2 separate regions of the Homo sapiens genome follow, and region 2 is linked to region 1. Evidence: fine-mapped expression QTL. A gene starts in region 1. The other region holds a variant in brackets. All regions are shown on one strand. Distances are from middle to middle. Region 1 holds the start of CLEC4D (C-type lectin domain family 4 member D). Region 2 overlaps CLEC4E (C-type lectin domain family 4 member E).

Region 1 (2,926 bases):
CTGAAGTTATAAATAGCCACTAATCAAACAAAAATATGCCCAATCAGGGAACTGTAAACGAAAAGATTGTGGTATAACTTTTCACACATCAGATTTTTTAAGTAAATTAAGTACATGCAGTGTTGGCAAGGCTGAGGGGAAATAAGCACTCTTAGTGAGAAAATAAATGCTGCTGCCTGGACTGGAAAATTAGGAATGCCTTTTAGAAGGATCAATTTAGTGGCATTTATCCATTTTTAAATGCATTTCATTTGCCACAATAATTTCAATTACAGGTGTCTATTCTATAGAAATAATTGAGCTTGTTTATGTTAAAAGATATTCATTGCAGTACTTCTCAAAATAGAAAACACATACTGTAATCTAATATTTACATGTATATTATCAATAGTGGAAATTCTAAATTATGGTCCCTTCACACAATGATATTCTGTATAGTAATTAAATAAGCATGTAATCAGTATATATTGATGCAAAAAATCTCTAAGAAATATTGTTACCTAAAAAGGTAATTCAATAGGATCACACTGTGATTACAGTTTGCCATGGTAGGGTGATGAGATAAAGTAAAACTTTAATTTTAATTTAAACATTTCCACACTTGTTCTATATATCTATCAAAAATATTATTTAATATTATCACAATACAAATCCACTGGTGTCACTTAAGTCAAACATAAAATGGGACAGTTAGAGCCTCTGATACAGCATAAGCCTAAATGCTTTTTCTACATCTTCCTTTTCTCTTTTTTCTTTAAAAGAATCTTCTCATATTACTCTCTTTCTTTTCATCTTATTTCTCTTTTATATATTTTATCTCCCCTCTTGGTCCAATATACATTTTATAAAGAAGTTTCTGTTATCCAACTTATTTGACTCTATGTCCTTCCTCTTCACCAACGTCATTTTTATTTCCTTCCACCTCCTTCTCCCCGTCATCATCAACAATCTTTAAAACTACCATCAATTCATATGTTTTAAATTAGTATAATTCCATCTGCTTCTTTGAAATGGAAAGGAGAGAAAGTACTCACGTTTACTTTGAGGTTTTTCTAGCCCCATTGTCTAATTAGTCTCTTGTTCAATGGTCAGGACGGCAAGAATTTGTTCTATTTTTTTTCCCCCAGAGTATATTTCTGTGGATAGGGGAATATATTCAGAAATACTTGAGATCGAACACCAATGTTACATATTGTAGTGAGATTAGAAAGGTACCAGTATAAGAAAGTTAGCTCAAAAGAAGTCTTTTTCAAAGACAGGGGTTTCCTTTGATACATTCCGGGAGATGAGGCGAAAAAAAAAAAAAAAGGAAATTGAGAAAGCAATACCAAACAACAGTTAGTAGAAACCCACAAGTATGTTGAGATCACTAGATCAGTGTGAAATGTGGAATTTCTCAATTTGTTTTTTTTTTCATTTAGACAAAAAATTTAGCAACGCCCTAAAAGAAATAATTGTTATGCCCAATAAAAATTTAGTAAATGTCCCCTCTTTTTAAATTCTTTTTGTGAATATTATATTTTCAAAGGCAGTTATATTCTTGGGGTGAGTTCTATACTAAAAAGTTCTCTGGACTGAATAAAAAGTTGAGTCTAAGAGAGCAAAAGACAATGTGAACAATGAACAAAAACTTTTAAAGTATACCTTGTGTGTACATGGCATGTGAAGACACAGCAACCTTTGTTTTCGAGTTGAGGAAGAGATGATAGAGCAGTTAATTAAATCCCAAGAACTTTCTAGGTGAGCAAAAAGAGTTGTGTTAAGGCAAAGACAAAGAAAATGTAAGATTCTGTGATAAAGACACCATCAGGGTCCCTGACTTCATTTATAGCACTGTTAGGGAGTGAATGTCTGTATCTCCTCAAAATTCATTGGTGGAAGCACTACCCTCCAACGTAATGGCATTTGGAGGTCAAAAGTTTGGGAGGTAATTAGGTTTAATATGAGGTCATGAGAATGGGGTCCTCATGATGGAATTATAAGAAGAGACCCGGCTAACGAGCTGTTTACTTCCTGCGGGTGCTCAGGCTGTGGCCATCTTCCTTGCTGTTGCTCTTCTCATTGGAGAAGATGGCCCTGGAGACGGTGCTGAAGGACCTGTGGCATCTGTGGGCCTGTTTGCTGTGTTCACTGGTCAAGGTACTATAGACCAGTTTGAATATGATGGTTGTGACTATTGAGATGCATATCTACAGATGAAGGGTAACTGAGAGATGCTATATGGCTGCACCAGCTCCTCCTTTGATGGAATCATTGCGATGATGAGTCCAGAGGACAGCTGGGTCTCCAACTGGCAGCGAGTCAATAACTTTAAGCCAGGTGTATATGCGGTGTCAACCACTGGTCGCTTGCCCTAAGGAATCGTGCGGGAGCTGAAAAGTTGAGGAGTGGCCTACAAATCCAAAGACACAGCTATAAAGACCAGACGCAGGGCTGCCAGCGTCTTTGCTCTCCACCTCCTGCCTCTGCTTATTTTTTGTTCTGGAACTAAATGGGCAGAGCTTCAAATGCTTCCTACCCTCCAATTCAGACTCAGCCAACTGTTGAGAGAACAGCACATCATTTTATCATTTTACCTTATTTGGACTTCAGGTGGGGGTGGGAGGGATTTGGGTTGGTGGATTAACAGATGGAATTGAGGAGAGAGTAGGATGCTGACTTTCCTACCTGTAGCCCAAGGCTGCGCCTTGCTCATGAAGAGGTCTAGGTCAAATGTCAATAAATAGAAACCTCTAGAAAGTTCTTAAGGCCATGACACCTGCCTCGCTTCCCTCTTCCTTTCTCTTAGGCACACAGTAAGAGCTTATTTGCCCTATAAGATACCTTCCCAGAGCAGCAGAGGCCCTTCCACTCCCTCTTGACTGTCTCAGCCTCCAGGATTGCAGCCTTTGTAGTGTGCTTCCTTGCTTCCTATCAGAAGGTGCTG
Region 2 (2,861 bases), 22 kb before region 1:
AAAATGCATGCTGTTCTTACTATTTCGGTAAAGTCACTGCCTACCTTAATTTATTTTCCTTCCTAGAAGAACCTAAGAAAAAGGGAATTTCCATGTGGAGTTCCTTTAGTTAGGCAAGGGGAAAAAGAGGGTTGGAAGTGTTAATTTTAGACGAATCGTTATGTTTATGAACATATTATATGAAAGAAGAGAAGCAAATATTGTCCGTTTTCTTTAAGCTGTGATTAATAATATTTTGCGCTAGATATATTCAATAAATTTGGCCACCAATAATAGTAGATAAACTTTGAAAGAATTATTGAGGATCTCCTTTTCTGTTGAAGGTTATTTTTTCAGTTTAATTTTATGTTATGTATATTTTACCACAAAAAAAAATCAGTAGATAATCCTCATGATCTTACAGTTTCACTTATCTGTTATTTCTCATCCAGATTCTTTTTTACTTTTTGAGATGGAGTCTTGCTGTGTTGCCCAGGCTGGAGTGCAGTGGCGCAATCTCGGCTCACTGCAACCTCTGCCTCCCAGGTTCAAGCGATTCTCCTGCCTCAGCCTCCCAAGTAGCTGGGACTACAGGCACCCGCCACCATGCCTGGCAAATTTTTTTATACTTTTAGTAGAGACAGGGTTTCGCCATGTTGGTCAAGCTGGTCTTGAACTCCTGACCTCAGGTGATCCACCCGCCTCGGCCTCCCAAAGTGCTAGGATCTCATCCAGATTCTTACCTCTTTGAATAATAATTACTAGCAACGTTTATTCAAAACTAAAATAACTGATCTCCTTTTATTTTGTATCTTCCATAGGAATTCCTTTCCTACAAGAAACCTAAAATGAGAGAGTTTTTTATTGGACTGTCAGACCAGGTTGTCGAGGGTCAGTGGCAATGGGTGGACGGCACACCTTTGACAAAGTCTCTGAGGTAATTACCCTCCTATTGAGAGGAGTTCTTGAAACCTCCTTCTGTTACCTGCAATAGATCAGGTCCATTATTGGTGGTGGTATTAAATGCAGGAAAGAGAAGAGCTAAGGTAGAAAAGATGAAGGAGAAGTACAAGCACCCACTTCTCTCCTTTCCTGGAATTGTCTCAAGAATAAAGGGGAAATAATAAATGAAAATGAACTGAAGAATCATTCACTGAGAATGCAAAAGAGACGAGAGGTGGAATTAAGAGTCTTATTCCCCAAAACTGAAGGAAATGAGGAAAAAAATAGTAAGTTGAGAAAGACAGCAGGTTCTTATGCAGTGAAAAATGAGAATCTCTTGATAATGTCTCTTTTCTCCTTAATAATAGCCTCACGTCATTAGAACATAGCATTTTTTATTGTGGATATGCTTTTTTTGTTAGATTGGTTAATTGATATATAAAATATTTTGCTATATATGTTGATTCTCATGATTTGTTAGGGAGTGAGTTTTTTCTTTTTTCTTTTCTTCAACTTTTATTTTAAGTTCCAGGGTACATGTGCAGGATGTGCAGGTTACATAGGTAAACGTGTGCCGTGGTGGTTTGGTTTGCTGCAGAAATCATAACATGACCCGGGTATTAAGTCCAGCATCCATTAGGTATTCTTCCTGATAGAGCATAGCATTTTTAATTTTTTTTCTCATTTATTATTTCATTTTACCTAAATTACACTTTCTTGGAATGTATCAGTATTATTAATCTTTATTTAGCATTTGAGGAAACTAAAACTCAGCAGAGTTAA[G/A]TGACTTAGCTAATGAGCAGTTCTAAGAGTACAACAGAGATACTCTGACATGTTAGAAATGCTGCTTCACTACCACACTGTAACATCACTGCAGGATGCACCTAAGTTAATACACACTCTGTGCAGAATAAAGAGAGCTAAGCCGATATGAGGTATGAGTGTGAAGAAAACAAATCTATCAGAATATCAATCTTCCCCATAACTTCTCATTCTATAGCTAAGGAACAGGACAGAATAGAAAAGGAACAAAGGAACAGGACAGAATAGAAAGTCAGAAAGATCCGGTTCAGCTTCAGTACTCACAAACTGTGACTTCGACAACTAGTTTAGCTTCCTGAGGTTCCTTTTCTTCTTCAATAAAATGGACATTATAATACCTACCTCGCAAAATTGTTGTGAGGTTAAATAACACAAATGTAATTTGCCTAGTATATTAGGTTACTTTACCTCTTTTTGCTGGGATTTTAAGTCTCCTATGTCATTCTTTTTCAGCTTCTGGGATGTAGGGGAGCCCAACAACATAGCTACCCTGGAGGACTGTGCCACCATGAGAGACTCTTCAAACCCAAGGCAAAATTGGAATGATGTAACCTGTTTCCTCAATTATTTTCGGATTTGTGAAATGGTAGGAATAAATCCTTTGAACAAAGGAAAATCTCTTTAAGAACAGAAGGCACAACTCAAATGTGTAAAGAAGGAAGAGCAAGAACATGGCCACACCCACCGCCCCACACGAGAAATTTGTGCGCTGAACTTCAAAGGACTTCATAAGTATTTGTTACTCTGATATAAATAAAAATAAGTAGTTTTAAATGTTATAATTCATGTTACTGGCTGAAGTGCATTTTCTCTCTACGTTAGTCTCAGGTCCTCTTCCCAGAATTTACAAAGCAATTCACTACCTTTTGCTACATTTGCCTCATTTTTTAGTGTTCGTATGAAAGTACAGGGACACGGAGCCAAGACAGAGTCTAGCAAAGAAGGGGATTTTGGAAGGTGCCTTCCAAAAATCTCCTGAATCCGGGCTCTGTAGCAGGTCCTCTTCTTTCTAGCTTCTGACAAGTCTGTCTTCTCTTCTTGGTTTCATACCGTTCTTATCTCCTGCCCAAGCATATATCGTCTCTTTACTCCCCTGTATAATGAGTAAGAAGCTTCTT

Evidence for each region. PIP is the estimated chance that this variant, and not a neighbour inherited with it, causes the effect. A credible set is the group of variants that fine-mapping cannot tell apart.
Region 2: its variant is the best candidate, but not a certain one, in a credible set for the expression of CLEC4D in thyroid (GTEx, PIP 0.58).

What each region holds. Positions count from the first base shown.
Region 1 is chr12:8,511,869-8,514,794 of GRCh38, reverse strand. It overlaps CLEC4D (C-type lectin domain family 4 member D), which reads right to left and starts at 1,292. Exons shown (of 6, transcript NM_080387.5): 1 at 1,035-1,292. The coding sequence starts at 1,062. It also overlaps the pseudogene SUPT4H1P2.
Region 2 is chr12:8,534,145-8,537,005 of GRCh38, reverse strand. CLEC4E (C-type lectin domain family 4 member E) reads left to right here. Exons shown (of 6, transcript NM_014358.4): 5 at 801-916; 6 at 2,197-2,861. The coding sequence ends at 2,368. Among named protein-coding and RNA genes, the nearest start is that of CLEC4E, 5.3 kb to the left of the region's middle. The variant G/A (reference allele first, on the strand shown) is at 1,705.